2 separate regions of the Homo sapiens genome follow, and region 2 is linked to region 1. Evidence: fine-mapped expression QTL. A gene starts in region 1. The other region holds a variant in brackets. All regions are shown on one strand. Distances are from middle to middle. Region 1 holds the start of GNG10 (G protein subunit gamma 10). Region 2 overlaps MUSK (muscle associated receptor tyrosine kinase).

The links. PIP is the estimated chance that this variant, and not a neighbour inherited with it, causes the effect. A credible set is the group of variants that fine-mapping cannot tell apart.
Region 2: its variant is the best candidate, but not a certain one, in a credible set for the expression of GNG10 in spleen (GTEx, PIP 0.67).

Annotation. Positions count from the first base shown.
Region 1 is chr9:111,654,166-111,670,895 of GRCh38, forward strand. GNG10 (G protein subunit gamma 10) reads left to right here and starts at 7,440. Exons shown (of 3, transcript NM_001017998.4): 1 at 7,440-7,550; 2 at 12,650-12,781; 3 at 15,104-16,061. The coding sequence starts at 7,470. The coding sequence ends at 12,775. It overlaps DNAJC25-GNG10 (DNAJC25-GNG10 readthrough), which reads left to right. Exons shown (of 3, transcript NM_004125.4): 2 at 12,650-12,781; 3 at 15,107-16,061. The coding sequence ends at 12,775. It overlaps DNAJC25 (DnaJ heat shock protein family (Hsp40) member C25), which reads left to right. Exons shown (of 4, transcript NM_001015882.3): 4 at 1-180. RefSeq lists enhancers at 7,021-7,080, 8,151-8,250, 8,451-8,500 and silencers at 7,261-7,710, 7,741-7,860.
Region 2 is chr9:110,798,216-110,814,945 of GRCh38, forward strand. MUSK (muscle associated receptor tyrosine kinase) reads left to right here. Exons shown (of 15, transcript NM_005592.4): 15 at 2,091-8,343. The coding sequence ends at 2,773. Among named protein-coding and RNA genes, the nearest start is that of MUSK, 140 kb to the left of the region's middle. RefSeq lists an enhancer at 10,508-10,557. The variant G/A (reference allele first, on the strand shown) is at 9,612.

The DNA.
Region 1 (16,730 bases):
TTCTGTCAACCAATGAAATGTGTTTTCACATGTGTGGCAGTGCAAGTAAATAACACATTATTTGACTGAATCAGGCATGATACTGCACCAAAGTGTTGGTACATATTCACGGTAGTAAATCAGTACCCCTGTTAAAGGATTTATCCCATTGCTTCATATTAATAAAATGGTTACAATATATCACAAGTTTGTTGATATGACGTTTTAAATGAAACATTAAAATTGCTTTTATATAATTTTTAAAGATTAATATAGCATAGTTGATATGCAGAGTCTGTTTCTAGCTAAAGTAAGCTAGTTGTTTTGAGAGCTTAGCCCCAGTCAATGTGAGACAGAGCAGGAAGGCTCTTGCTAACGTAGACAAAGACCTGAGGCAAGGTAGTTAATCTGCGAGGACTTCAGTTGGCTCAATTATAAACTTGGGGAAGAGTCCGACCAGATTATCACTAGGGCCCTTTTGCAGCTCTAAAATTATTTATATTTTTGTAAACTTTAGATGAAAGTGTTTTATGCATCTATTCTGTTGGAGGAGTGTGGAGAAGGTACAGAGCTGAATTACAGGTAACTGTTTTTTAGACTTCAAACGCCCACCTCTTAGCTATAGACAAAATGCCTTTCAAAGATGCTGTGGTTGCCGGTAGAGTCAGCAATCCCTGTCCTGGTGAATGTATTATATAGTTAACACACAATGGTATTTACCACCTAAAAACATAAGTACGTGACATATATTATGAGGACCAAAAAGAAATGTCAGTACTCGACTCTCAAAATTTTTGAATGCCTCTATTAACCTAGCGACGAACTGTAAGAGGACTGGACATGTTAGCATTCATAAGGGTTGGCTGATGAAAACAGTTCATCTTTTGATATTCTTTTGCATATGTGCTAGATTACTGTATTTCTTCCAGTCTTCCTAGAAATGTTTCCGGAATTGTCCCCAGTAGCCTGCCCACTTGGTAATGTTTGGTCAGTCTTTTGGAATCACAGTCATTGCGTGAGTCTAGATGAATGGGCCGTGCTCGAGAGAAGAACTGATTCTTCTTGCCTTCCCTCAACAGATGGACCTTATGCTTCAAAATCCTAGGGTGAAGGAAGAGCCGTTAGTTGTCACAAATGTCAGTCATGTCTTCTGGGTGTCCTTATTATCTGTACCCTGCCCATCCCTCACCAAAAACCCAAAAGCCTCTCCATTTTAGAAACATCTGGAGAAAAATCCTGGGTAGAGAACCCCACAACTCCACTAGTTAGAACATTTTTCTCGAACTTCATTTTAGGGCTATTCCCATTGCCTTTTTGGTTGGTATTCAAGGGTTTATAGAGCATAGCTGTTCAATGCTATCTATTCGTCATTGTGTTACATAGTTGAGGTCTGCTAAGATTACCCTTCAGGTTATATGCATAACAGATATTCTCATAACAGATTCCATGACTAACTCTTCATTGCCTTATTTATGAATTCTAAGTTCTACAAATCATAGGTTACAGTTTCATAACATGTATTAGGTCTACTCTTAAATAGGACCATTGAGATACAGGATTTTTAAAATGTTACATGAAAGAATGGTTCAGTTTAGAGAATTAACTAGTACTATTTATGTTTAGAAAATAATAATTCATTACTTTGAGGGGTTTTTGTTTTTTTGGTTTTTTTTTTTTTGAGATGGTGTCTCGCTCTGCCACCCAGGCTGGAGTACAATGGTGCGATCTTGGCTCACTGCAACCTCTACCTCCCGGTTTCAAGTGATTCCCTGCCTCAGCCTCCCAAGTAGTTGGGATTACAGGTGCCTGCCACTATGGCTGGCTAATTTTTTGTATTTTTAGTAGAGACAGGTTTCACCATGTTGGCCAGGCTAGTCTTGAACTCCTGACCTCAGGTGATCCTCCCGCCTCAGCCTCCCAAAGTGCTGGAATTACAGGTGTGAGCCACCGCGCCTGGCCTAGTAGTAAACTTTTTTTTTAGATGGAGTCTCACTCTGTCACCAGGCTGGAGTGCAGTGACAGGATCTCAGCTCACTGCAACCTCTGCCTCCTGGGTTCAAGTGATTCTCCTGCCTCAGCCTCCCGAGTAGCTGGGACTACAGGCACCTGCCACCACGCCCGGCTAATTTTTTGTATTTTTAGTAGAGACAGGGTTTCACCATGTTGGCCAGGATGGTCTGGATCTCCTGACCTCGTGATCCACCCACCTCGGCCTCCCCAAGTGTTGGGATTACAGGCGTGAGCCACTGCACCCGGCCAGTAGTAAACTGTTAATACCCAAACCTTGGAGATATTTTTCTTGAGTGGAGGCCAATTGCTAGGGTATCACTCAGCTAGTGTGAACCAGACTGCTGGCCACAAACTGAAAATAATGTGGCTTTTATTAGATAGTATAAATGGAATCTAGCTACTTTAAAACATTAAATCAAACCTGGTCTCTTTTGACTTAGAATTATACACTTGAAGCAAATAGATAAATGTTGGTATTGATACAAACTAGTTGTGTATGGATGAATTATAATTATTTATAAAATGTGATGTTAACATTTAAATATTGGCAAAGGCCAAATCTAGAACCTAATAACTAAATTAAATTTACTTCATAAAATTATTTCAGTAGAAACCTACATAATTAGTTGTAAACTTTAGCCTCTTAATTCTTTTTTAATTGATATATGATAGTTGTACATATTTCAGCTTTTTTTTTGGAGACAGCATCTCTTGCCCAGGCCGAGTGCAGTGGCTTGATCATGGCTCACTGCAGCCTTGACCTCCTGGGCTCACATGATCCTCCCACCTCAGCCTCCTGAGTAGCTGGGACTACAGGGACTCATGCCACTATGGCTGGCTAATTTTTTGATTTATTTTTATTTTTATTTTAGTCGGGGGTCTTACTATGTTGCTCAAGCTGATCTTGAACTCCTGAGCTCAAGGGATCCTCCTTTTAAAGTGCTGGGATTATAGGCATGAGCTACAGGGTCTGGCCTTAGCTTCGTAATTATTAAAGGATTTAGGATATCCTCAACAATTGTGTATGGAATGGATCATGTGGTCTCAGATCAGTGTCACAGATTCCTCCTTCCTGGTTTCATTCGGGGGTGGAGAAACTTCTGTCATCTGACAGTCTCTCCTTTATAACCTCACGAAGCACGACATAGTGGAATGACTCTGGCTTTATAACCGGATAGAACAAGGTTGACTGGGCAGGTTACTTTAACCTGTGAGCCTTGTTTTCTTTCATGTAAAGATACTATTTCAGACAGTTCTTAGACGATAACAAGGGTAAAATGCCTGGCATATATTAAGTGATCAGGAAATGTGAGTTATTTTGCCTTCAGAGGGAATAACAAAGAGTCTCATTTGTTAAAAAAAAAAAAAGCATGGTAACAGGAGTGTGTTTTGTGATGATTACAAACCCATTGTTTATTCTTTTAATACATATTTTAATCCCTTGTGCAAGGCACGGTGCTAGAGTGAAGGAGTGATGCTCCTTAGGGTTGGAATTGTGTATTTTAAAAAGCAGCTGCCTGCCCTGTTGCCACCAGTGTGCAAGGTGGAGCAGCCGAGATGACGACTCAGGAAAGAAAGAAAAACTTTCAGAGATGACAGAATGATCAGCAAGTTGCTAGTCTAAGGCCTACATTTAGTGAAGGGACATTTTCAATGTAGCAAACAGATATGCTTAGAATGGTTGCTCAAAAAGACATCTAATAGCCCTAAGTTCTGCCGTCTCCCAAAGTCTCAAAAGTACCTGTGAAAATCTCTCCAGAAAAGCCATTCTGAATCTACAAACCTGCTGGTGATTCTTTCAGCTCCTGATTCATTATTTCTGGGTTCTAAAAATAATGTAATAGGCAAAAAGAAGTAAAATAATTTTTATAGTACATGATACTGTGTCACATTAGATATAGTTATTAATGTGTTTTCCTACTCTTAATCATTTTGGAAACTATAGATGGTATATATTATTGTCATTTTGATATAACATTGGCAGAAATATCTTCCCATTATGTCATTATTTTTATGGAGAAGATTGACTCACAAACCCCTTTCCTGGAAGAATAATCCACTGTTAGTAGACAGGTGATAAAATACAAGTCAGAGGAGTGAAGAACTGTAGCTCCTAACAGGGAAACAAATGAAACATTTGTCATTACAAGGGTAATGACATTTCTAGAAAGTTTCTTGGAAATGAGATAAGTTTGTGCTTAACCAGGGAAAAAAATGTGTGACAAAATTTGAAAGATATTCTACTGGTTACCCATGCATTTTAGCTGTAGTGAGAAGGAAAGAAGGGTACTCTGTCTCCATCCCTCACCTTCCAGAGCTCTGGAAATCACAGCACATGTGGGAAAGGCCTCTGGTCCTCTAGGTAAACCTTGAGTTCTTTGTTTGAGACGGAGTCTTGTTCTGTCGCCCAGGCAGGAGTGCAGTGGCGCAGTCTCACTGCAACCCCCACCTCCCGGGTTCAAGCGATACTTGTGCCTCAGCCTCCCAGGAATCTGGGACTACAGGCATATGCCAGCACGCCCGGCTAATTTTTGTATTTTAAATTAGCCAGGCGTGGTAGAAACCCCGAAGAGACGGGGTTTCACCATGTTGGCCAGACTTGTCTTGAACTCCTGACCTCAAGTGATCTGCCCGCCTTGGCCTCCCAAAGTGCTGGGATTACAGGTGTGAGCCACCGCGTCTGGCCTGAATTCTCTTGAAAGCTAAAATGAAATTCTTTTCCCTGCTCCCACTTTCTGTGATACTGGGCAAGTCACTTCACTTTCCTTAGTGGATCTGTTTCCTCATCTCTGAAATTGTAGATGCGCCGCACTATCTGATGGTTCCCTTCAACTTTGAAGTTCCATGATGCAAAAATAATGGATGAGAAGTCTTGTGGGGAAAGTGTGGAGCATCACACAGATGGTCAGCCTTCCTCAAGTACAAGTGGCGCCCGGCCTGCTTATCCATGGATCACAGACCATTCCTCTTGAACGGTGCAAAGTAACACTGAGGTGGGCGGGGCAGTGGGTGTGTAGGGCATGAAGGAGGCAGACACAGCACACCCCTAGACTTTTCCTGCTACCTCGTGGCTGATACAGTATGACATGGCTGACGTGTGTCCCTTCATTGAGGGCAACTCCAAAGCCTTCATTTCTAATGATTTTGAGGTAATCTCATTATTTCAGCTGCCATTGCTGTGGAGACATCTTCACATTAACATCTTGGCTACTAAACATTTTCAGCAGCCTAAAGGCATGTAGCAATGCCATGGAAGTCACTTCGTTACTCCTAAACCAAACCCCACATTATTTTTTACTCATCTCAAGCCAAGTCTTGTTTCCTAATTTCTGTTTTGGCATTAGTTCTGGCCCACTCTCTGCTACAGAACCCTTTGTCCTCTTTTCTTTGCATTTCATAACCACCATGAAGTACCACTGATTTTGTCTTCTAAATTTGTTCCCCCTCATTCCTACTCTAACAGTCCTACCCAGGGCCTCATTCCAGCTACTCCCCCACCATCAGCCATTTATCTTCTCAACTTCAGTTCATTTTGCACATTCATCTCAGATTAATATTCCCAAAATGCCTTACCCTGTGGCTATCCCACTGTTTACCATAAACTTTTGTGTGTATGTGAGGTTTTCTATGACTTCTGGCCCTAGCAACTTTGTATCTGCTATTAGTCACTAGAGCTTCCTCTATTTTTAAATTTATTCACTCTACATGTGTGCATCGCCTCCAGCTGTCCTCCATACTGGACTGTTCTTCCTTCTGAGCCATCTGCAAGACACGTATCTCCAAAGTCCAGCTCTCACGATCTATGATGAGCCTTTCCTAATCCAGTATGTATATCTTTGCACTGAGTTCTTTGCCATATCTTTTAAATATGAAATCATTCTATTTTGTCCTATTCATCAGTCTCAGAATTGATTGTTGAATGTTCCCAACATGTACTTTCATCTCTTTACTAAGATATATATTAATTTCTTTGTGGTGAGGAAATTGGCCACTAGAGAGGGCTTTCAAATGTGCAAGTCTCCCTTTGGCCCAGGCACAGCTAATCTGAGCACGTCAATGCCACACATCCTTGCCTTCAAAGAGTAATTGGGCCAGGGGTGGGCCCATGACTTAATACCAGCCAGTGAGGTTCATTATGGGGATTTTTGCTGGAACGATTAGAAAGAAAAGAGGTACTATTTTTCCTGGGTTTGCTAGATGGGGACAGTGAAAGTGTGGTGCCTTCCTTCATACCACTAGAGAAGTCCATCTACCACCAAGGAAAATGAGGCTAATCTCAGGAAAAGCAGAATCAAAACAAGGAGGATGAGAGCCCCAAAATTATTATTTGGGTAATTGAATTCACTAGTTTAAAGTCCCTGGACTTTTCAGTTACACAAGCCAATATATTACCTTTTGCAATATTCAGTTTAAGTGAGTTCTGACAAATACAATGGTGTACAAGAATAATGACGTATTAATGATACATGGAAAAAAGCAACACAAAAATTTTAAATATAGTAACGATCCCAGTTTTGTAAAACACTTATTAAAAAATGCAGTAGGCCTATAATGCCAGCACTTTGGGAGGCTGAGGTGGGAGGATCACCTGAGCCCAGGAGTTCAACACCAGCCTGGCCAACATCGTGAAACCCCGTCTCTACTAAAAATACAAAAATTAGCCGGGCGTGGTGGTGTGTGTCTGTAGTCCCAGCTACTCAGGAGGCTGAGGCAGGAGGATCACCTGAGCCCACGAGGTGGAGGCTACAAGGAGCTGTGATCACGCCACTGCACTCCACCCCGGGTGACAGAGCAAGACCCTGTCTCAAAAAAAAAAAAAAAAAAAAAAAAAGCAGCAGAATAGAAACAATGATGACAGTTAAATGGTGAGATGAGAGTGAGAAACGCTGAATTTAATTTTATTCTGTATGTTTCACAAAGATGTCAGGGTCTGGGATTTTATCCAATTTACCATACTCCACCAAATCAACTGGTAGGATCTCCGTGAAACAGTAACAGGGTCATTTAGAAACCTGTTGCTGCCTCATGAAAATCCTATGAACTCTCCTTGGTTCCCCGGTGATACTGTCTGGCAAGGCCCCTTATCTCTCCAACTCATGTCACACCTTGGCTCCAGTTCTCATTTCTCAGGGGTGCGTGTTTGCTGCCGCCCACTCCATCCTCGCGTCCCACGCCCTCGCGATTCCTGCTCATCCTAGGGGCGCCAGCTTCGCTGGAGGACGCCGCGCTCTGCGGGTCCCCGCCTCGGTTCCAGGCCCAGCTGCAGGTGCCACCCAGGTTTCAGGCGCTGAGGAGCGGAGAGCACTGCCAGCTCGCTGGGGTCCCCGCTGTCTCTGGCAAGCGGCTCCGCGCCGGGTGGGCTGGGGCGGCGGGGCGGGCGCAGCTGCTTCCCCGCCCCGGGGCGGCACCCGCGCTCGGGGCTGGCGGCTCCTCCCCGCCCGGCCGGGCCCAGCAGCCCCTAGGAGCCCAGCGCCGCCGCCATGTCCTCCGGGGCTAGCGCGAGCGCCCTGCAGCGCTTGGTAGAGCAGCTCAAGTTGGAGGCTGGCGTGGAGAGGATCAAGGTGCGGGCCCCGGGTACCCACGCTCCGGTCCTTCCGCCCGCGGGGCGTGAGAAGAGGAGGCCGGCGGCCCGGACCGGGCGCCAGCGGGGGACTCGGTGGCGGCGGCGAGGCCTCGGCGGGGCGCGGGGGCGGTGGGGTCCGCGGTGAGGGAGGGCGCGGGGCAAGCCGGGGGCCCGGGCCTGACGGGAGGAAGCCGCGCCTGGGGGGCCCCGCGGTCGTGGTCGGTCCCGGTCCCTGGGGGTGCGCCCACTCCAGAAGGCGGCCGTGGTCAGTTCCTCGGAGGGCGCAAGGGATGCCGGCGACGCGCGGGCCGGGAGGGTGGACCCAGGGCTGGGGAGGCCACCGCAGGGCGGCGAATTGGTGATGGATTGGTAGGATGAGAGCGAGAGGGAGGAGAGCCAGGATGCTCGGGTTTCTGTCGTCGTGACAGGGTGGACGGCGCTGCCACCCGCCGAGGTAGAGAGGAGGGGGAACAGGTTTGGGGAAATGATGAGTTCGGCTGCGGACCTGGGGACTCCGGGGAGTCATCCGGGAGGTATTTGTCCTCATGGCCTGAAGCTCAGCGCCCAGGGCTGAAAGAGGTCATTCAAGTGCATTGGGGCGAAAAAGCCTCTTCTATGAAGAGCAGAGCTCAGAGCCTGGGACCCGGGGACCAGCCACACCGATGGCCGGTGGCCGAGAGAAGAGGAAATAAGAGACAGCAAGGTTTCCGAGCAAGGCCTAGAGAAGAGGAAATAAGAGACAGCAAGGTTTCCGAGCAAGGAAGTAGGGATTTCCAAAAACTGGGGGCTCAGTCAACATGTCCAGCGTTTAGTCAGTTGGCTAAAAGGCGTCTGTTGTAGAGCTGTGTTTAGCTACGAGTGCAGCATTATTTGCAGAAGATCTGTAAGAAGGAACACAACCAGGATAGTCCCTGTGCCTCAGTTTCTCCTTTGCTGTGTGCCTGGCACTGCTACAGGGAATAGGGTGGTTCTGGAGGGGAAGGTAAACAGCAACTTAACGGATACATAGCATCGCTTCATGTACTAAGTGGAGTGAAGATAATAAACAGGGTAAAGGGAGAGAGGGCTGTGGAATGCAGAGGTCTGGTGGCTTATGTGTTAGTAAAAGCAGAATCTGGACTGTCATAGGGTAGGCAGACGTTTTTTCTTTTTAAAGAAACCTAGTTTTAAAGAGGAAATAACGTGTTTTTTTAACTTAGGAAATGAAAAGCCATGTTTTAGGGTTGAGAGGAAGTAACAAATTATATTTTTAGGTTCCAGGGAAGAAACAAATGGAAGCCAATTGCTGGTAGAGGAGACAGGGCTACGGGGGGGTGGGGGATTGGTGGCACAGCTTCTGAGACAGGAAGAAAGAAGGTAAGGGTGTGTGTAAAGATAAGTTTCTAGATATGGGCTAAACTTGTATGGTGACACTTTTCTTTGTGAAATAGGAGGCCAGGTTTTCTTCTAAGGCAGAGGAAAGGGGACTAAGGGAGTGGCCCCTGAGCAGGCACGCAGATGCGCTGTGACTGAAGACCCAGCTGCTGTGACAAGGGAGACTGCTGGTCATATTTGTGATTTTTTTTTTTTCCTGCAGCAATCTTTACCATCCTGGAATGTGAGTGCTGAAGGTGAACGGTAGTTGAAAGAGGAGTAAGTTAGCAGGGGAGGTATGCCAGAAAGGTGGAGGTGGGGCCGGAGGGCAAGGCGTGTGAAGGTCTGGCCAGAAAGAGGCTGAGCCTAGATGGATAGAGAAGGAATGCAGCCAGCCTCCTGGTGATAGGTGAGACAGAAGGGGAGGAGGTGATGCCTGGTGATCTCGGTGAGGTCAGAGCAGAATAAAGGAAGAATAAAGGAGGCAGCACCCTGGATGGGAAGGAGAGATTGTGATCAGAGAGTAGGATACTGGAGTGTAAAATTTCAGAAGTGGAGCAGTTACAGGTGTTGTAACTGTATCTGTTGGCATTGAGGAGAAGGCTGTTTGAGGGGAAGAAGTCAGGGAACTGAAATGAGGGTTGTTGGAAATTCACAAAGACAATGTGGGGACATGAGGTAGAAAGGAAAACTGTGAGCCAGTCAGATGCCTGTCTACCCGCCAAGTAGCTAAGAAAGAGGAAAGATATTCTTTTTTTTTTTTTTTTGAGATGGAGTTTCATTCTTGTTGCCCAGGTTGGAGTGCAATGGCATGATCTCAGCTCACTGCAACCTCTGCCTCCCAGGTTCAAGCGATTCTCCTGCCTCAGCCTCCCGAGTAGCTGGGATTACGGGCACCTGCCACCACGTCCACTAATTGGCTTTTTTTTTTTTTTTGTATTTTTAGTAGAGATGGAGTTTCACCATATTGGCCAGGCTGGTATCGATCTCCTGACCTCAGGTGATCCTCCCGCCTCAAGCTCCCAAAGTGCTGGGATTACAGGCATGAGCCATGGCACCTGGCCGGAAAGATGTGCTTATCTACCTTTTAAAAATGATGATGAAACTGAGAGCCATATAATTCAGGTGAATTGCCTGAGCTCGCAGTAAGCTTATTTACAAATAGGATAATAAGCCTATTTAAGAGGTGCGCTCATGGAAGTATGATCTGGGGTACTTGGCAGGGCTTCCCTCAGACAATACCTTAGAGAGTCACAACCATTCCAGGGTCTGGTCTACCTCACATCCTCATTCATTGTTGGATGTGCTTAGCATAGCCAGAGGTGTCTTCTCTTTGACAGACTTGCTATCTGAAAAATAAACCAGGACACCAATTTTCTAGCATATAATAGAGGACATCCCTTCCCAGCTATAGGAATGCTTGGTATCCTTCCAAGAACTCCTCCTTTAGAGGAGCCTCACAGAAGTTGCTGGGTAAACATGGGCTCAAACCAAGGAAAGTCAGGTAACCTGGGTGGAGGTTATCCCACCACCAATGGCAGGGGACAGCTTGCAAGTATTTGGGCTTATAGTCTCCCAGCCCACAGCCTCTCTCCCTTGCTAGTGTTAGAGAGATGCTGATCACGTTTACTCTTCTCTTATTTTCTCTGCGTATCCCCTTACCTTAACTTTTTGACCATGTTCTTGAGCCTAGAGTTCAGTTAGTCTCATTTCTCCAGGAGTCCTGGAGACAGTGTCCTTCCACCTACCATGTGTGGAGTTTACCTGCCACCCCAATGCAAAGATAGTAAGCCTGAGCATAATTGATTCTCGATTTCTTTTGAATTAATAACTGGTATATATAACCATTAATTCCAATTATAATTCACATGAAAATGTCAGAGCTTCTATTGAGAGCAAAAGCAAACTTTAGCATTAGCCTGGTAATATTATATTATGGTTTTATATTCATATAATATGGAGTAAACTGTCATTACATTAATGCAACCAAAATTCCTGGAGCTGTCCAGAAACTTGGTAGCAATTGTAACATAAACAGTTAATTTTCCAGTTATTTGGAGGCTTGGAAAATTAACACAAACTAGTAGTAATACCTGAACAGCAATTGGAACCATTTTTGTACAATATGGGTGAATTGTATTCAAAATGCCTTTTAATGCAAAAAAAAAAAGTACAATGAGGAAAACCTCCAAGTAGAAATATGCATCAAATGGAAGATAAGAAAAGGGATAATGATATTGTATCAGTTAGTTTTTGCTGCCTGACAAACCACCCCAAAATTTAGTGGCTTAAAAGATTTATACTCACAGTTCTTAGATGGACAATTTGAGCTAGGTTCAGGTGTACAGTTCTGCTGATCTTCTGGGCTCTCCCATGCATCTGCAATCAGATAGAGTGTTAACTGGTGTTGGCTGGTGTCTGGGTGATTGAGAATGGCCTCACTCACAGGTCTGCAGGTTGATAGGCAGGTGCTGGTTGTAGCTTACCAGTTCTCCTCTACAAGACCTCCAGGAGGCTATCTTGGGCTCCTTCAGATGGTTGTCTTACAGTTCCACCTGCACCAAGAGAGATAGGTGCAGAGACTCTTGAGGACTAGCTTGGAACTTGCCCTTTATTTCTACCACATTCTACTGGTCAAAGTCAGCCCAGATTCTTTTCTTTTTTTGTTTTTTTGAGACGGAGTTTTGCTCTTGTCACCCAGCTTGGAGTGCAATGGTGCGATCTCGGCTCACTGAAACCTCCGCCTCCTGGGTTCAAGCGATTCTCCTGCCTCAACCTCCTGAGTAGCTGGGATTACAGGTGCACGCCACCACACCCGGTTAATTTTTTTTTTTTTTTTTTTTTTAGTAGAGACAGGGTTTCACCATGTTGGTCAGGCTGGTCTCGAACTCCTGACCTCGTGATCTGCCCCCGCTTGGGCTCCCAAAGTGCTGGGATTACAGGTGTGAGCCACTGCGCCCAGCCACAGTCAGCCCAGATTCAAGGGGTGCGTCAATAGACTCTACCTCTTCGTGGAAGGAGCTGCAAACTATTGTGATCACGTTTGCAGTCTACCACAAATGTATTGCTATATGTTAGCGCTATTCTAATAGCTTTATATGTGTGAACTCACTTAATTGTTACAGCAACCCAGAGAGGTGAGTTACTATTTCTAATTATTTCTCAGATGAGGAAGCAGCTACTGAGACGTTGAGTAACTTGCCCAAGGTTATATAGGTAGTGGCAGAGCTGAATTTGAGTCCACGCAGTCTGGTTCCAGAGGCTATACTCCCAAATAATAAGCTATACCGCCTCAAAAGCAAGGCGGAAGAACTTTATCACTTGTTTGGAGCAGACTGAATAAGGCTTCAGACTTGTAAACATTAAGACAATTTGCTCATTTGGCAAACTTGGATATATTGATGCATGTTTTATATAAGTAAAAATTTGTAAAGGGAATGCTAGAATGAGCTATTTCTTTACCCGTTCAGTCTCAAAACTAGATTTCTAAATGGATCAAAGATACAGCTTTTTCTTGTCTTCGTTGAATAAGCAACTAAACCAAAAAATATCTAAATTGACGTTCATGGAAATTGTAACCTTTTCTCTTTGTAGTTCAAGTATTAGAACTTTCAGCAGAAAGAGACTTTTGGAGGTCACAAAAAGTTGATATTTACCAAGTTGGATGATCGTTTTCAGAATATCCTTGACTGCCGGGTGGCTTGGCTGTGAGCAGGGTGCCATGTTGCTGTCCCTTTGTTTCAGGTCTCTCAGGCAGCTGCAGAGCTTCAACAGTACTGTATGCAGAATGCCTGCAAGGATGCCCTGCTGGTGGGTGTTCCAGCTGGAAGTAACCCCTTCCGGGAGCCTAGATCCTGTGCTTTACTCTGAAGACTCGTGAGTAATGATACACCATGATGTCTTGGGCCCATAGCATTATCACAGGGCTTCCCAAAGGACTTGAGCAACTGAGTTTTGAATGTCTCCTATTCTTGGGGAAATTAAAACAAGAGCCAGCAAAATGCACAACTTTCCCTGAAGTGTGATTCTAGTGTATATTTACCTTGCCTGTAGAATACATCTAATCAGGACAGTCTGAAGTCTCTCTGGCACTAAGTCATGAGATGCCAACATCCTTCTGTACTTGAGCTCTTTGAGTTGGCTGGTAGTAATTTCTTCCTTTCTTTCTTTCTTTTTTTTGAGACAGTCTCGCTCTGTCACCCAGGCTGGAGTACAGTGGCATGATCTTGGCTCACTGCAACCTCCATCTCCCAGGTTCAAGCAATTCTCTTGTCTCAGCCTCCCGAGTAGCTGGGACTACAGGTGCCTGCCACCACGCCCGGCTAATGTTTGTATTTTTAATAGAGATGGGGTTTCACCATATTGGTCAGGCTGGTCTCGAACTCCTGACCTCAGGTGATCCACCCGCCTCGGCCTCCTAAAGTGCTGGGATTACAGGTGTGAGCCACCACACCTGGCCAGTAATTTCTTGACCTTAAGCCCACCCTCTCTGTCCTTATAGCATCCAAGGGTTGGGATTTGCTACTTAGTGCTATCAACTGACTTGCTACTCTTGGGAATAAGGACTCCCCAGAGTGGGAGATGTGTGCCTACCACCCGCTGTGATTTCTTTCCCAATGGTTTTCAGAATATATCTCTGTTTTAATGGAGGAAGAAATATAGCTATTGGGAAAAAGTGTGAGTGGGGTTAAAAGAGCTTTAAAAATTGATAAATGAAAACACCTCTCTGGTGGCATATTAGAAACTTCTTGGGTTCGAATGCTTTGTATTGGGGTCATTTTCACAATGTGTTTCCCCCCTCATCGCCGAGACATCTTGCTCTGTCACCCAGGCTGGAGTGCGGTGGCGCGATCTTGGCTCACTGCATCCTCTGTCTCCTGGGTTCAAGCAATTCTCCTGCCTCAGCCACCCGAGTAGCTGGGATTACAGGCGCATGCCACCATGCCCACCTAATTTTTTTGTATTTTAGTAGAAATGGGGTTTCACCATGTTGGCTAGGCTGGTCTTGAATTGGCTGGTCTCAAACTCCTGACCTCATGATCTGCCTGCCTTGGCCTCCCAAAGTGCTGGGATTACAGGCGTGACACAATGTTTTTTTAAGAGGACAAGGGCATGAATTATTAGAGTCTTTTGGGACCAACATATTTCAAATGATGTGTTCTAAGGGGTGTTTATACAGTGAGTAATTATCTTAGGTCCTTCTTCACAAGTAGCAAAAGGAAATTGTTCACATTTAAAAGAAGGAAGCAATCTATCAAATCTTATTGTACTTTTTAATGGAAAATGTTCATATTTATGGTGTTAAGATAATAGTCTTATGTTGGCATAGCATTTTTCTTTTTACAAAGCTTCCTTCTTCCCTCCCCTCCCCTCCCCTCCCCTCTTCTTCCCTTCCCTTCCCTCCTTCTTTCCTTCCTTCTCTTTATTAAATTGAGATGGAGTCTCACTCTGTCACCCATGCTGGAGTGCAGTGGCACAATCTTGGCTCACTGCAACCTCCACCTCCCAGGTTCAAGTAATTCTCCTGCCTCAGTCTCCCGAGTAGGTGGGACTGCAGGTGTGCAGCACCATGCCTGGCTAATTTTTGTATGTTTAGGAGAGATGAGGTTTCACCGTATTGCTCAGGCTGTTCTCAAACTCCTGACCTGAGGTGACCTGCCTGCCTCGGCCTCCCGAAGTGCTGGGATTACAGTCGTGAGCCACTGCGCCCGGCCTTACAAAGCACTTTCATGGGTGCTGCTCATTCAGTGGTGTGGTTTAGATGTCTTTTGTATTCACCTGTTACTTTCATTTTTTTTTTGTTTGAGACGGAGTTTTGCTCTTGTTTCCAGGCTGCAGTGCAATGGTGCGATCTCAGCTCACCACAACCTCTGCCTCCCGGGTTCAAGCGATTCTCCTGCCTCAGCCTCACTAGTAGCTGGGATTACAGGTGCCCGCCACCATGCCCGGCTAATTTTTTTGTATTTTTAGTAGAGGCAGGGTTTCTCCATGTTGGTCAGGCTGGTCTTGAACTCCCAATATCAGGTGATCCACCCACCTCGGCCTCCCAAAGTGTTGGGATTACAGGCGTGAGCCACCGCGCCTAGCTCACCTGTTGCTTTCTATTTCGTGAATACTAAAGTACCCTATTAAATGATGACTAGTTAATTTTATAAAGAAATCTTACTAAAGTGAAAACCAAACAAACTCTTTTTCCAGTAGGAGAGAAGTTTGCTGAGGAATGCCTTCAAGCACAAAGTGATGAATGACTGCCTTCAAGTCTCAAGAAAACACTTTTCCCTAACTTTTAGAGATATTTCAGCCCTTTCCTGTGGCCTGGTCCTATAGCCAAAATCACAGATATTCATGAGTTTCTACTTGAGTGAGAAAACTGGGTGAAGGAATAGAATTTTAAATAGTAATAACTGCTTGTTTTTTTTGTGCAAGTACTTTTATACATAAGATAAACAAAAACCTTACCACCAAACATACCAAAATGCACCTCTTTCATAAGTGAGTTACTAAGATTTCTATACCTGGAATATCATGTATGTTTCATTTACTGGATGTTTACATTTTAGGAAGGAAAATAGTTTTGTTTATTTAAACAACTGAATACTTATAAACTGTTGTTCCTGGAAGTTATTTATTCCATAAAAAATTTGTTCTTTTGTCATGAATTTATAATTCCTAAATGAAGACCAGAAAGTACAAATTGCTGGGAGGAAGAATAGGCTTTATTAATCAACTGATGTCTTGATTTTTCTAAATGGGAAGATTGCTTTATTTTTAACACTAATTATGGGAGCAGATTCTTAGCAAACTTCTTTGGAAAAGTTAATGTTATGATGTGCATTAGGCTGCCCCATCGTGTATATAAATGAAGCAGATTTGATTTTTGTATTCTTACGTTTCTCTGCTTTGTAGTTGTGGCTGTACTTAAAGAAATACAGAATTTCATATATTTAAAAATGTTTAAAATGTGACCCACAGAACATTGTAAATGATTAAAAACTAACATGAAAATATTACAACCTAAAAGAATTCTTAACTTCACAAGTGTTTTACTTCGACGATGTGCCTTTGATTTAATTTGGGACACTTTTTTAGAAGGATACATTATTCGTGTTTGCAACGGTCTTTGAAGAGCTTGGAAATAAAATTTCTGCTTAATTAATCATTTTTCTATGACAGCAATATTTTGTGTCTGATTTTGTATTAAGGACTCAAGGATTTCTGTTTGCCTGTGAGATTGAGTGCTGGAATGAGAGAGTGAAATTGTTGTTTTTAAGTCTTTGTAGAATTTTGCAAATGTCCTGAAAAATAGATAACTGTATAACATGAAGAAAATATCTCTATTAATGGCAACATTTGTTCTCTGAAATAGCTATATATAAACTCATAAATAAACAAAAATATCTGTGAGTGTAAGTAGTGTTACAATAGAGAAAATAGAAGTTATTAGATGGGAACTCCCTTAACTTTTAGCTACTAAACTTCTAGATCTAGTGATTGGAATCCCTTCCATTCAGTCATAATTCAGGCATCCCTTTTATAACCTATTTGTTCTCTGGATCTGTTTCACCTTCTCTGAAATTGCACACTACCAGTGATCCTTTCTCCTTCATCTTCAAGTTCTCTGCTGGATGCTTTATTTTCTCTTTTCTTCTCTTCTCTTTTCTTTTTTGAGACAGGGTCTCACTTTGTCACCCAGGCTGGAGTGCAGTGGCGCTATCTCGGCTCACTGCAGCCTCAATCTCCTAGGTTCAAGTGTTCTTCCCACCTCTGGCCCCCAAGTAGCTGGGACTACAGGCGTGAACCATCACACCCGACTAATTTTTGTATT
Region 2 (16,730 bases), 860 kb before region 1:
CCATAAAATTCACTTCTATCAATAAAAGAAATCTACTTTGTTTTATATATTTGATACATCAGCCACTTATTGAACATGTTCGTATCTTAAAAATTGTTTCCCTTTTATTGAAATCCTAGTGGATAATGGTTTTGTAGTCATAAATTGGGAAAAATGGTATAACTAAAGAAATATGCAGAATTTTAGAATGGGAGTAGGCATTGAATATTATAGACTCTTACGGAATATTCTGGCAGTGGAGCAAACAGTAGAACAATCAGGTGAGATTATTCATTGAAGATGTCATGCTAAAGTTTAAAGACATGGCTTGGGCTAGGCATGAGGTTTTCTTATGCCCATCCATCTATGCATCCATCCTTAAATCTATCCATGCATCCACCTATGCATTAATTCATCCATCCACCCATCAACATATATTGAAAACCCATAGTGAGCCATGTGTAGTATTAGACCTGAGGTTACAAGGATGAATAAAATACAGTCTTCCTCTCAATAATTATTATATTTTGAAGTCCCACCTAAGAGTTGGGTTGGAGTAATTACAATATAGAAAACATTTTGAGGTCTTAAATAAATGTATATACATATATAATTGTAAATTATATCTATACACATGTATATATAATTGTTCATAATAATCACAAAGTAGAAATCTTTTGTATAGTATTTTCTTTATCAGAGTGGAAAATTTCATTAAATCAATTTAGTTCAAAACTTTATTTCTCAGAGAAATATTTTGTCATTTTTTTCCAGTATAAGAAATTATTTTTAAATCAACTCAACCAGCATAACAATGGTAAAGCCAGTTGATGAGATAGGTAAGTCCCTGTTAACTAAAGATTATCCAAAAAGGATCCCACAGAAGAAACTTCTAAGTATTATCCAGTTGGTATTTCTTTATTTTTTCCCTTTAGTTTACAGAAATGTGCTAATTGAGGTCCTTGGAATTAAAAATTAATGCCAAAATAAATAAGCCAAGATAGCAGTATTCCTCATTTCTCCTCTTTTTCAAACAGATACTTTTAACTTTTGCCTGAAAAAACCCAATAGATCTAATAATCTATTTTTAAGATGATGTGAAATTATGCCCATCTTATCTAATATTCCAAGTTCTCCAGTTTCCCTCTCAAATATATCAAGACTTTAAGATTTGAAAATGATCTTCTGGCTTTAAATCTAAGACTTTATTTATATTAACTTTTTTGGTAGCATGAACATTGTAAAACCTAAATTTCAAAATGTTTTACTGCAGCAACTTAAATACTTCATCTAAGACACTTGAATTGTATTTGTTATTGTTTCCAAACTTGATACATCTTTCTTATTAACATCCTTCATAGAAGTAAACAGAAACAGACAGCAATTACATTACATACTCAGAGCAAGCATCCATTCATAAATTAACTCACCAAACATTATGAGGCATCTGCTCTGCCAGACACGTGGTAGGTGTGGGGAATTTTTAAAGAAGAATAAGGTTCAATCTCTCCTTTCAAAGTGCTAAAACGTTGGGGAGAAACCTCAAATAGTCAAATGATTATAAAATAGGATGGTAGGTTCTCTGTGAAAGGATGACAGTAGGAAAATCTAACAGTTACTGGAAGGATCAGGAGCTGAGGCACCCTAGGGAGAGTGATAAACTGAATCTTAAAGGCAAAGAGGAGATGTTTAGGCAGAGAAATAGGGTCAGGGTTCAACCATGGTGTTGTCAACAAAAAACCAGGGCCTCCAGATTTCAGAGAGAAGAGCCACTCCAGAGAACTGATACACCATGTACTTATATGCACCATGAACTTGATGCACCATGTACGATGTACTTATGACAAGTGCCCAGGACAACAGCGCTCTGCTGGAAGTCCTCAAAAACTTTAGCCAAGGGACAGAAACCCCACTACCCAGAGTGCATTTCCTAGCTGAGACTCCTTTTGTGTTGTGATTAAAAGGATACAAATATTAAAAAACAAACATACGACAACAACAACAAAAAACAGGGCTTCATATGTTCTGACATGGTCGTTTGCTTTTGGAGTGCTCTTTCCATTGTTTCATTGTAGAAACTGAGACTAACAGGGATGGTCTTTTGGTTCCAGGAGTGTGTGCTGTCGGGAAGCCAATGTGCCTGCTCTTTGAATACATGGCCTATGGTGACCTCAATGAGTTCCTCCGCAGCATGTCCCCTCACACCGTGTGCAGCCTCAGTCACAGTGACTTGTCTATGAGGGCTCAGGTCTCCAGCCCTGGGCCCCCACCCCTCTCCTGTGCTGAGCAGCTTTGCATTGCCAGGCAGGTGGCAGCTGGCATGGCTTACCTCTCAGAACGTAAGTTTGTTCACCGAGATTTAGCCACCAGGAACTGCCTGGTGGGCGAGAACATGGTGGTGAAAATTGCCGACTTTGGCCTCTCCAGGAACATCTACTCAGCAGACTACTACAAAGCTAATGAAAACGACGCTATCCCTATCCGTTGGATGCCACCAGAGTCCATTTTTTATAACCGCTACACTACAGAGTCTGATGTGTGGGCCTATGGCGTGGTCCTCTGGGAGATCTTCTCCTATGGCCTGCAGCCCTACTATGGGATGGCCCATGAGGAGGTCATTTACTACGTGCGAGATGGCAACATCCTCTCCTGCCCTGAGAACTGCCCCGTGGAGCTGTACAATCTCATGCGTCTATGTTGGAGCAAGCTGCCTGCAGACAGACCCAGTTTCACCAGTATTCACCGAATTCTGGAACGCATGTGTGAGAGGGCAGAGGGAACTGTGAGTGTCTAAGGTTGAAGACGTTCAAATAAAATGCTGCAGTTTCCTCTCAGACTCTGTGAGCCAGGGGAATCCTACACCAGAGGCCCAACAAGACCCACATAGGAAAGAGTAAGAGTAAACATGAGTAGTGTGTTGTTTGCTTCCCAGGGAGAGCAAAGACAGTGCAAAACCCATGTGGTAGACGGACCCATTGAAAGCCAGTGATTGGAAACACAGGCTAGGAAATGTGTCAGATAATGGAGACAACTATTCTTCTTCATGAAGGTTTGTAATACACACTGCACAGGGAAGAATGTCATCCTGTTCAGTTTCCAAAGTAGCTGGTCACAGAGTAAAGCTCTGCTGTATTAAATTTTAATATGAAATGGGATTCAGAGCTTCATTTTTTAATTGAGTTAATTCCTGTCCATTGTGAAAGTAGCTTAATCGTCATGTAAGACACTTAGGTGAAGTACAGAAAACTAAAAAGAAGGAAAAGCCACTCATTCTGTCTCCCCCCAAAGACGAGTCTTAGTGTTTTATTAAATCTTTCTTGCATTTAATGCATAATTTTATATTTGTTTGTATTCTGCAGAGTTGTGGTTACATTTTATTGATAGAGGGTTTCTAAGGAATGAAACAGCAAATCAGCAAGCCTGTAACTCTGAGTTCCCTTTTCTGTCCTGTGCCCCTCCTTTTTTCCTTTCTGTGCATTTGTCATGAATTAAGTCTGCTTATTTTATTCCTCCAGTTTTCTTGAAACAAGTTTTTGTATCTTACTGATTTACCTTTTCCTTTAAAAATTGTATTGGTATCTTTTCCATTGCTTTAATCTTTATTTCTTCTTCTTTCCAGGACTTCTGTCCTTTTTTAGTTATTAAGCTATTTTTTTCTTTTATTTCATTCATGTAATAAACACTCTGGCAGAAATAATAACATTTTAAATACCATTGTAGATTGATATGTATATGCCTTTTGCAAAGTATTACTATTTTTCCTGCATTTGCCTTTGAAGCCACACATTTCAACATTCTCACCTATTAATATTATTACTAGAGTCTATTTAAATCTCTTAAACCATAATTTATAATATGAGATTTCACAAGATACACTTGTGGCTCTGAGTTATTTCAAAACTGATATTTCTGTGCATTCTGACATTTTATTCCTTTTAGAAACAAATTCAGTTGGCTGTAGAATTAATATCGTTCTGCTTAACAACTTTGTGCATGACATATTAACTGATTTTGTTGTATTTCATGATTTAAAAAAAAAAGCAGCAGCTCTGGAACTCAGATTCCTGGGGGTTCAGATTTTTTCTCAGTGGATCCTCACACAATACATCTTTATCTAAGTCCATACATGATCTGAGTTTATTTCTGATATAGCAGGAACCCAAATTCTCCTGAAAACGAACAGGGAAGAGAAAATAACAGTCTACTCTATACCAGCTTATCTTAATTCAGACTAATTGGTAGTTAGGGCATTGGAGGAATGGTGTGAATTCTTGAAAGTAGATTTTCGCTGTCTGCTGGAAAACTCTGCCTGAAATCCCCAAATCTGCCTCATGTAACAGCTTGACATCTTTGGTGGGAAACCTGCCATTTCTTATTCATAGTGTCTCCAGGCAACCAAGACAAAAATGTAGAAATTTTCCTAGACTTTGCCCTCTCTTTCATCATCAGTTTTCTATTAGTTTTACTTCCTAAAATCCTCCTGCTGACATCCTCTTCCCTTCAACCCAAGAGCCAATGACTCAACCTCTACCGTTGCCCACCCTGTCTATTAGCTGGCCTTCCTCTCATTTCAGACCTGAACAGATTCTGTAGGATACAACGACAGTAAGGCGGTCCTTAGTCACAGTTCTGGTTCATAAATAGCGAGGTCAGCATTTAGGACTGAGACCTAAAGAAGTGCTTCAGATAAAAATCATGAGTCTAAGTCCAAAATTGATACTGTAATCCAAATGACTGAATAAAGAATAAAGTTGCAGCGTGTGTCTAAAGCAGAAAGTCAAGATGCCAACAAAGCAGAAAAGTTGGAGAGGGCCACCAGCAAGTCTAGAACTTGAGCATAGATATCCATGGCTTATTTTAGATGGTTCATGTATGCTCTGCAAAATTCAAAGACAGCTTCGGGCTTTCTCCGCTGATAAAGTTTTGTTGTAAAAGACAGACATAGAAGTCAGGCTGACAGAAAATAGAGTAACAGTAATCATAAAAATTATAATATCAGCTAGCATTTATTGAAATCTTACCATGTGTATTCTGAGGCCTTTAAATATATGAACTTAAACCTCACAACATCCCTGTAATGTTGGTACTATCATTATATACATTTTAGTTTTGCTTTGTTTTGTTTTGTTTTTGAGACGGAGTCTCGCTCTGTCGCCCAGGCTGGAGTGCAGTGGCACGATCTTGGCTCACTGCAAGCTCAGCCTCCAACAGTCACAGAGAGATTGTGCAACTGGCCCGAGTGCACACAGCAACAGAGCCTACTTTTTGACCAAAAGAGGCCGAATTCTCAACCACTATACTGTAGAGCCTCTGTACATGATAGAAGCAATAACTGAACCTCAGTAACTCTGTGGAAGTGATTTGTAATTTGCATGTCGTTTCAAGCACACTCTATATCTATATTTTATTCTATTAACTTCCTAAGTCTTTTTAATGAATAGCAAAAAAAGTATATTTCAGCATTATCAATTTAAGTTAATCATAACATCTAATAGGTGACATGTTTATTTTTTCATGAGTTCTAATTACATTTTCAAGTTAAGATCACTGACTTATTCCCTAAGTGCTCGATCTAATGTTCTGAATCACAGGAGTATAGATGCATTATTCACCAATATTGTTTACTTTTTTAAATAAGATTTTTTTTCATGGTAGAATCATCATATACATTCAAAAAGGTAGACAAAAGAGAGACACTCACAGTGTCACTGTTACCAAGTGCCAGGACAGATATCAGTAAGGCACCAGCAGTCATTTTTAGTGATCAAATACCAAACATGGTAAGATACCAGAGTATTTTTCACATGACACCCAAAAACATATTCTCTGCTATCGTGGTAGAGCAGAAAAAGAACACTTTCTTTTCATTTTACAGTATATTACGAACCTGTTCCACGTCATTAAATATTCTTCTAAAAACCCAATTTTGGAATAATATTCTATTTTATTCATATACTGTAATTTAGCTAATCAATCTTGTATTTTTGAACATTTAGGTTTTTTCCAATTTTTATCATTATAAAAAATGCTGTAATTAACATCCTTATTTGTTCATGTCCACATTTCTTTTTATGAAAATTCAGAGAAAGGAAATGTCTGGACCAAATGGCATGTACAATATTAACACTTCTGTTATGTGGTTTCATATTCTGCAGAAATATTACTGCCACTTCTACATTGTACAAGAGATCTCATAGCCCTAAACATTTGCTTTCATAGATAATTTTCTGTTTTTTAGAAATCTTTTGTCTCTTTGGTTATAGAAAAAGAGAACCTCTTTTTAATTTTATTTTTTAAATTACTAGTCAGGTTGAATGTTTCTTGTTCCTAGGTCATTAACAGTTTTTATTTTGGCAATTGTCTACAGCCCATTTTTCTGCTGTGTTCATTTTCTAATCGAATTATGGGATTTATCTTGTAAAAAGCCTATTAAGCCTTTTTCATACTTTACACAAGAGATCACATCTACTTACTTTACCTTAAAATAACATTTACTTATTTTCTTATAAAAGTAATATATTATGTTTGAAAAGAAAAATAATATGCAATAATATACAATAATATGTATAATCATAATAGACAATAATAAAAATGAAAAAACACCAACCAGAGGTAATTAACATTAACATCATAATATTCTTCCAGGCTTTTTCAGATAGACAGGTAGGTAAGTAGGTTGGTAGGTAAATAGATAGATAGATGATACATAGAGAGAGATAGATAGATAATTTAAACAAAAATAAGATCATACTGCTACATTACTTCAAGCCTTGCTTTTATCACTTAATATATCTTAAACATCTTCTACATGAACAAGTATTCATGTGCAACATTAATTTTGATGGTTGAATAGTATTATACAGATTTATCGTAATTGACATAACTATTCTACTGTTAGACATTTGGTTTATTTCTATTTTTCCATTATAAAATGTAATGTTTGGATCATCCTGTTGCTAAATTTTGTAAGCATTTATCTTAAGTGATTTCTTTAGCTATAACTCCTAGAAGTGAAATTTCTAGATTAAAGGATAAATGCACTTTTAATACTTTTTAAATATATTAAAAAATTACCTTCCTGAATTATTTTATTAACATGTACCTCTCCTAGTCAGATAAGACAGCCCATTTATTTCAGTCTCACCAATACTGAGTATAGCATTTTAATCATTGCCAATATAATAGCTAATAGCTTAAAGTTATTTCATAGCTTATATTTACACTTCTTTAAATACTAATAAAATTGAACATTGTTTAATGTTTTGAGGATACTTGATTGGTGATTTGCCTCCTACTATTATTTTTCTACTGGGTATATCTTTTTCTTGTTGCTTTGTAAGAGCACTTTATATATTAAGGAGTTAAATTTTGTGATATATGTTTCAACTACTTTTATCATGTTAAAAATATAGACTTCTATTTGTCTTTTATTGTAGGTTTTATCAATCAGAAAAGAATGTTGACTTTTCCGTCCATTCAGATGATTGTGGCTTTTTTCCCTAATGGATTTGTTAATATGTTCAATTGTATGAATTTATTTCCTAATGTAGCGATATCCTTGTCTTCTAGGAATAAACTTTTTGGGCGAATCATATCAATCTTCTACTTAACTACCAAATTAATTTACATATATTTGCATCAATATTAAGTTCATAAAATTAAAAGTTTATCATTTTCATCTCTGTTAGAGTTTTGTATTGGCATTAGCATTTGTATTAGCATTGTATTAGGAAAAACTCAGGAGTTTTTCTCTATAATCTTGGTTAGTTTATTTTTAAATAATTGTTATTTATGAAAGTAATACATAAAAATGTTGTTTAAAAAAACTCACAAGAGGGTAAAAATTAAAAAAATAATAAAAGTTCCCTTCTTCCTTTTCATCTCTAGTCCCAGCCTAAGTGCTAACCACTTCACCCATTTATAGTGTTAGTTCTTCTGGTGATTACCAGTGCAATTCTAACAAATAGGTTTGCATTTCTCTTTCTGAATTGATCAATTTTTTAAAAATATGCAGCACTCTGACTCAAACTCCCTTTCTTTTTCCTGAGATATGTTAACTTCTAATGTTATATTGTTTATCACAACTTTCACAAATATTTCTAAATAAAGGTTACCTACTGATTCTGGATTGTGCTACATAAAATTAGAGCTTCCAAATTTCCCTCCATCACTTCTCCCTGCTCTCTACTCTCACAATCAGTCAACTATACACCTATTTCTACGCTGTCAACTATATGTTCATTTCTATGAATCTGTAATATTTGCATTTTGTTCTGGAACAAATTAAGATTTAGGTGCTTTGACTAGATTGATTCTAAACATCAAAAAACAAAAATAAAATATCTGCAATTATGTGATCATGTATTTATGCATTGCCAAATAATGGTATTCCATTATTTTAATTTGATAAGATAAATTTAATATACATTAATTCTTATTTCCTCTATTTTATGGAAGAAATATTTTTAAAAATCACAAAACTTTTACATTCGCTTCTCTTCCTGATATTTATTTTTCCTTTTTCTTCTGCCTCTCTTCTTTCGTGCCCTTTTTTCCGAAAATTATTTTGATGATTTTTTTTATTCACCATACATAATTACAAATGAAGAGTTGCTCTGGTTCGTATTGGTAGTAGAAGTGGGGTCCCTTTGCTGTTTTGTTGGTATATTCACCCAGTGTGACCTCTTTTCCGTGGGATGGCTACCTCTGGGCTCTGATTATGTGGCTCATAGGGAAGTATAGGCAGCCTGAGTCAGAATCCCCACAGTTCCAAAGTGATGGAAGACTGTACTCTGAGATACAATATTTTGACGTATTTCACTCCCAGGGAGAGCTACTTGCTATTCTTTCACTGCTTCCATTACCCAAAAGAGTATGATATTCTCCCCATTTTCTGTATTGCCTCACACCTAGGACCCTTCAAACCCACACCAACGACCTCTCAGGCAAATTGATCTATTCAGATAGCAGTTTACAGGGATAGACATGAGGCCTCTTGGCCCACCTGCTCTATACACAATCTTCTAGTCGACCATCCTGATTGACAACCCACAGCCCACCCCTGTCTCTGTATTTGCTGACTCAGAGCATGGAGACTTTATACATGTGAAATCACATCTCCCCTCCCCTCACGCTTGGCTTGTGTGTATTGCAAAAGCTGCAATTTAGTTTTTCCTGTGCCTTGTCTTACCCATGGATAAGAACACTAAGATACTTTCCGCTTTTTGAATATTTGTCAAAGTGATGGCACTTGGATTGGTTTCAGCATGTACATAGATTGATTCTTATTCATATACATTTACTGTCATATTGGGGAAATCTTGAGGGGAAAAGAAAAGCCTCTTACTACCATGTTCATCAAGAGTCCTCTCTGGAATAGTTGAAATAGTTTAGGAGTTATCGGTTCACTCCTTCGTCTTGTTTGCCTCCAGATTTCTTTTTTCCTTCTTTTCCTGTTTCTTAATGTTGGAACAGCCCACACCTCAATCCTTGGATGACATCTCCCTTTTATCTGTATTCATCCCTAGTGATCTCTTCTGGTTGCAAGGCTATAAATGCCATCTGTATGCTGAGATTTTTTTATTTTTAGTTCAAACCTCTCTCCCCAACTTTACACTCACATTTCTAACTGT[G/A]TGTTATAGATGATAGCTTTAGATTCTCCTCCTCAGGACTAGGCTTTCTGCTTGATCTAGGAGCAAAGCTGAAAACTGCTATGGAGCTTGGTGTTGCCTTGATACCGAGGAGGAGTCTCAGAGCCTCTCCAGTGCAAATACACACTTGCAGTGTCCTAGTGCTGCTGACTTACGTACTCATTCTAAAGAGGGTAGATTGTATCCATTTTAATAGCTCTCAATACCCTTGCCCATTCCCATTACAGCTGGCAGAAATTCCCCAGCTGCAAATGGGTTGCATTTATCTGTTACCCATTCCTGATTTGCAGCACGATTGACTGTTTCCTTTTCTGCGTGGTCTATGTGTCACTCCATGAGAATCTGGGAGAGGAGAACTCGATATGGTGCTCATTCCATCATTTTAACCATAGTGTTCTTTATTGTGAAGAGGTATCCCGGTTAGAGTGGAGTCAAAGCTTTATAGCAAGTGTATTTCAGGTAACTATTCTTTTACTTGTTTCAGATCTATTTCAGTAGCACAGCCACCAAGATAGAACACTTATAAGCCCTTATTTTGGTATAGATCACCAGAGAAACCACTCACCACTCGCACTTGGCCTTCAGTACTGAGTCATTACATATTGGAAGGTCAGAAACTACATCAACAGGAAAGACCCATAGGTGTGGGGGTCTGATATATTTGCCAGTACATTTCTTATCATTACAAACAAAGATTTATGTGTGTCTAGATGTTTACCTTGCCTTCTAAGAGGTCATGTCCTCTGAATGAAGCAAAATCAAGGTAAGCCTTTACCTGTAAGCCGTTACATGTCTTCTTTACAGAATCCCTCTTAATTAAAAACTTCTAAGAGATTCAACAGGGTTAGTTTTTCTTACAACCTTCATCGTCAGACCTGTAATTATGCAACTGGCCAGCATTGCTCTTTCAAACCACAGTCTCTGGAAAGTACACACCGTATATAGCATTTTGCCCATAAGAAGAGAAACCACCTGTAGTATCTAAGGTTACGTCAGAGAGATGTTAACCACAAAAAAACCCAGACTTAGATACACACTATCATTTTCTGGGTGTGTTCTTGACCATTTAGAGCTGTGATTAAAATTAGAAGTGTTGGCATGACACTGCTTTCTGACTTTCTTTTTTAGCCATGTTGACACCGTGGTGGTTAGTGTGATGCTCCTTCTTATTTCAATTGATGCTTTACTCAAGTATGGATGAAACATAATTTAAAGTCACCTCTTCTTCTGCTATCTTGATTTTTAAAATTATTTGGATGCATTATATTTAAGAATCTTAAGACAGTCCATTAGTATTATGTATTTATCTTCTCTTCACTCGTTTAAGTCACTTTCTGACTCAGATCACCTTCTCAGGAGACTCTCAGCATCATTCTGCCTGACATCACTCAGTTGCTTTGTTTATGGCAACCTAAAAAAGCAGCTGCCCTAATTTTAGCCCATTCCCAGAGTACCCTCAGAAGTGACAGGTAAGAAAAAATAAACTGATCAAAGATGAGAGAAAGACTTACAGAGGAGTGACACTGAGAGAGCAAAAAACCACAAATAAATTTCATTTCTAAGAACAAAGCAAAGATGACCAGGAAATGCCTGAGGAAACACATTTTTTTTTTTTTTTTGGAGGCAGAGGGTATTATATTCCTTTTTTTTCTTCAACTTTCATTCTAGATTCAGGGAGTACATGGGCGAGTGTGTTATGTGGACATGTTGTGTAGTGCTGATGTTTTCAGTACAACTAAACCTGTCACCCGGGTTGTAAGCATAGTACCCAATAGATAGTTTTTCAACCCTTGCCTCCCTTCTTCAGAGACCTCCCCCTTCTTGTATTCCCCAGTGTCTTTTGTTCCCATCTTTATGTCCATGTGTACTCAATGTTTAACTCCCACTTATACTTGAGGACATTTAGTATTTACTTTTCTGTTTCTGTGTCCATTTTGCTGCAAAGGACATGATTTTGTTCTTTTTGGCTGCATAGTATTCCATGGTGTATATGTATCACATTTACTTTATCCAATCAACCATTGATAGGCAACTATGTTGATTCCACATCATTGCTATTGTGGATAGTGCTGCAATGAACGTATGGGTACAATGTGCCTTTTGGCAGAATGATTGATTTTCCTTTAAGTGTATACCAAAGGAAATGGGATTGCTGTATCAAATGGTAGATCAACTCTTATTTATTTCTCATTCATTTCTCAAATAATTTCTCAATTATTTGAGAAATCAAGGAGACACTTTTTTTTTTTTTTTTTTTTTTTGAGACAGAGTCTTGCTCTGTTGCCTGGGCTGGAGCGCAGTGGCGTGATCTTGGCTCACCAGAACTCTGCCTCCCAGGTTCAAGCAATTTGGAGACATAATTTTTAAGACATTTTTAAATAATAAACCTCAAATATTTTAGGGAAAACATCTTTATCTCTGTTTCTATAACTGTCAACCTCTTTCTAATAAGCTTTGCAAAGCTATATGAAACTAGTTTTTAATTTTTGTATACTTGAGACAATTTTGGAAGAAAGTAGGTATCTACTCATCCAATTTCAGAGAACTCTGAGAAAATTTAGTTATTCTTATGAAAGATCTATTTTCTTATTGCAATAACTGTGAATTTATCTGGCACTTGGCCAAACTTAGCATTAACAGGTAATACATTATATTCACAACAGAAACTAGAAGATGATTCCAGAACAACACAGCCCTAAAGGAAAAATCATTAATTGTTTGACATAAATATTCTACACTTCAAAAATCTACACTTAGATTTTTTTTCTAAGATTGTTTTGTATTATTTACTAACCTAACAGCTTTCCATTAACAATAAATTTAGAACTTTTTTATATTTTAAATATCAATGTGTGCATTATTTTGGTGATGACATAATAAATCATTAGATGTTGCATACATGTTATCAAATGTATATGGAGGTTGCGTAAGTGTTATCAAGACAGGCAGCAGATGGAGTGTTGAAATATATGGACTCAGGGCTGAGTCTGCTGCCTGTCAAATCCTAGCAATTTACTTAACCCCTTTGTGTTCAATTTTCCTCATTTATGAAAAGAGAATAAGAATAGCACCAAGCTCATAGGTTATTGGAAAGATTAAATGATTTAATAAGTAGAAAAGGCTTAGAAAGGTACCTAATACACAGTAAATACTTCCAAGGACTTTGCTAATATAATTGTGTCTAATTTTTTGCAATTATATAGAAAACTGACATACTATAGCTAAATCATTACACAGATCTTTTTACTATTTCCTGCAGATACAGCAATAGAACTAACATAATTAGGTCAGATGCAATAAACCTTTTTAGGAATTTTAATATATGTTACAAAATTACCCTCCAGAAATCTTGCAACAATTTACACAACCAATAGCAATGTTTGAAAGTGCTTATTTCTGATACTTCAGCTAATTTAGCATGTCATCAAATTTAATTCTTAGCCAGTTTGATAACTGAGAAACTTTAGCTCCCTGTTTAAATTTGATTTTTCTTTTAAATTCCTGCAGATATTGTTTGCTTTTCAGATTTTTTACCAGCTGTTTTTGGGCAGTTTGTGAATTGTCAAGTATGTTCTACTGTTTGTCTTCTACTGATTGTTCTCCACCTGGACTGAGTGTGGATCCTGGAACAGTCTAGTTTTTCTTGGGAATCCTGTTACAATGTATGTTCTAGATCTACCCTCCATATTTATTATCTTTAGCCTCATTGTATACATTTTATATCAATTTCTTCTGAGATAGGTAAATGTCTTAATCTGATTTTGTAATTCATTACATCTCCTATCTGCTTTTTACTGTTTTCATTGCATTATTTTTTATTTAATTATTTTTAATAGTAATACATTCACTTGGGTCAACATTCAAAGATATAAAAATCTACACAGTAGACTTCTACTTATAAGAAGAGGGGGTGGATGTGCTTTTTCCTCTTCCTTCCACTAAATACAACTAAAAACCCGAACATCACATAGAAAACCAACGTGGAAAAGTAGAGAGAAGTAGACAGTTCATCTAGGAAGAAGACAGAGTCAAGGAATGACATTCTGGTGAGCTCTCTGGGTTTTCTTTGGGCCTCAGCTATCTCAAACTTGAAGCTGAAGAAGCCAGCAACACAGAAACGCCAGCGGGCATATACCAAAAAAAAAAAAACCAAACAAAAAAAAAGCCCCAACTAAAGCCTGCTATCTTTAGACAAAACACCAGGAAAAGGGCACCTAGCAAGACAGAAACCTTTTAGACAATAATTGCTCTCTTCTAGCCAAACACCACGCGCGCACACACACACAACAAACAAAAAAAATGGCCTCACCTCCACCCACGCCAGCAAAGACCGAGTGTGGATCCTAGACTTCTCCCTCACCAGGTGTAATAAGGAGCTCAAACTTCCCACAGGTGTGAGTCAGAAAAGTCCTCTTCCACAACTCAGACTTTCATGCCTCTGAGCTCTAAATGCATATAGAGGAAATATTTAAGGCAATATATTATAAACATAGGAGGCTAAAGCGATATAAAAGGAGGTCCTTTCTACACTTTGTTTGAACTGGTAAAATGTCGACACTAGTAACTGTGATAAGTTACATACGTACTGTATAATGCATGTATAATGTAATCCCTAGAGCAACCATAACAAAACTCCACAAAAAGATACACTTCAAAACACTATTGGTCAGGTGCGGTGGCTCACACCTGTAATTTCAGCACTTTGGGAGGCCAAGGCAGGTGGATCACCTGAGGTCAGGAGTTCAATACCAACCTGGCCAACATGGCAAAACCCTGTCTCTATTAAAAATACAAAAATTAGCTGGGTGTGGTGGCACATGCCTCCCAGATACCTGGGAGGCTGAGGCAGGAGAAAAGCTTGAACTCGGGAGGCAGAAGTTGCAATGAGCCGAGATCACACCACTGCCCTCCAGCCTGGGTGACAGAGCAAGACTGTGTCTCAAAAACAAACAAACAAACAAAACCCACTATAGATATATCAAGACAGAATTCTAAGAAATGTTCAAGTAACCCACAGGAAGGCAAGAACAAGAAAACAGAAAAAAAAAAAAAAAACAGAGCAAATAAAAAGCAACAAATAAAATGGCAGACTTAAGCCTTGACATAGTAATAATTACATTAAGTATAATTATCGTAGAATTTTAAATGTTTAGATGGGCTTCCAGTCCAAGATGGAGAGAGAGCATGTGTTTGCCTCACCACCTGGGGTCTCAATGGACTACGGATTTGGATAAATTTCTGCAAAATGGAAAACACATGGCATCATACTAACAGACAAGACTCACAGGAAACAAAAGAGTGATACAATAGAGGTAGAAACCATCTGTTTGGTTCTATCCTTGAGAGGCTAAATAGAGACTATTTCCCTAGAGCTACTAACTAAAATACTATCACCTGGCAGGAAGCAGTGGGGGTTGGGAGGAGGGGCGGCAGTGAACTCAAAATAGATGATTACCTTTCTGGTGTCAGTGCCTGGTCCATACCCCTCACTCCTAGCAACAGTTCTTCTTCTCCGTTTCCTTCCTTAAAATCCTCCATTAATTTTTTATTCATTCATTTGACCAATACTTAGTGATTAGCTACTAAATGCTAGGCACTGTCACAGTTGCTGGGGAAATACTAGTGAACAAGATAAGTCTGATTTGGGGGAGTTTTAATTCTACTAACGAACAAATAATAAATATGAAAACAAAAATATAAACAGATCATTTTAAATAGCAATGAGTTCTATGAAAGCAGAGACATTGCAGGAATTAGTGTATATCCTTCCACCTGCTCATCACAAATAAATTCATTAGCAACTGCACTGCTACGACATTTCAAAGGCTGTTGAAATTCCACGTCTCCAAGGGCTGGAGTTCTCATTGCTATCAGCAAATGATCTGACTCCAGAATCCCAACCTTAGGGTATGCTTCCTAGGACTACTCTTAGGATACAGGGTTAGGTCATGTATTAGTCCATTCTCATGCTGCTAATAAAGACATACCGAAGGCTGGGTAATTTATAAAGGAAAGAGATTTAATTGACTCACAGTTCAGCACTGCTGGGGAGGCTTGAGGAAACTTACAAACATGGCAGAAGGGGAAGCAAGCATGTCCTTCTTCACATGGTGGCAACAAGAAGTACTGAGCAAAAGGGGAAAAGACCACACCATCAGATCTCATGAGGACCCATTCACTATCAGGAGAACAGCATGGAAGTAACTGCCCCCATGATTCAATTACCTCCCACCAGGTCTCTCCCACAACACATGGGGATTATGGGAACTACAATTCAAGATGAGATTTGGGTGGGGACACAGCAAAACCATATCAGGTCAGGTTCTTGAAAAACCAAGCCTGAGATAAAGATTCCTGTGCAAGTGGTTTATGGAGGGAGTGCTCTCAGAGGAAATGCCTCTGGGAGTGATAGAAGGAAGTTTGGTTAGTGAAGGAGCTGGGCAAAGGTGTGTTATCAGCGGAAGTGTGACCTCAGCTTGCACTCACAGAGAGCTCTGGAGTATGAGTTATACCGCAAAGATTGTCCTACCCAGAGGCAAAGAAGATTGAATTCTTATACCCCTGCTTTGCCTTTGGATATGAGCCACCCTGGGGCAAGGGCCAGAAGTGGGTAACCTCTCAGGCATCTCCACATGAGACAGTTCCTGTCATTCAAAGGCAATCCTTTCAAGAAGGGTTTCTTAACTTCCCAACTTTCAATTTGGGAAGATTTCTTATTGTCTAGCTTATTTTTATAGACACAGTCATCTTATTAAATAATAGTGACACACTAGCCTTATATGTTGAAGACTTCCCTTAAAACTGCTAACAGATATGGCATAAATCATTGTAATAAAATCAATTCTTTTTGGTTGATCCAAGATTCCATTTTCCTTCTCGTTGAAGAAGTAGGTGAATTTTAAAGGAAAGAACTAACTTTCCAAATTCAACCTGAGCTAGTTACAAAATAAATAAAACAGAAACTGCCCATTCTACCTTTTTTATGCAATAATAACAATACACACTTAGTCCACTAATTAAGTCTTCCCTTCAAGAAAGATTAGTAATTTATTTAGTAATTAATTACTAAATATTAAAAAAATTTAGTAATAAAATTAGTAA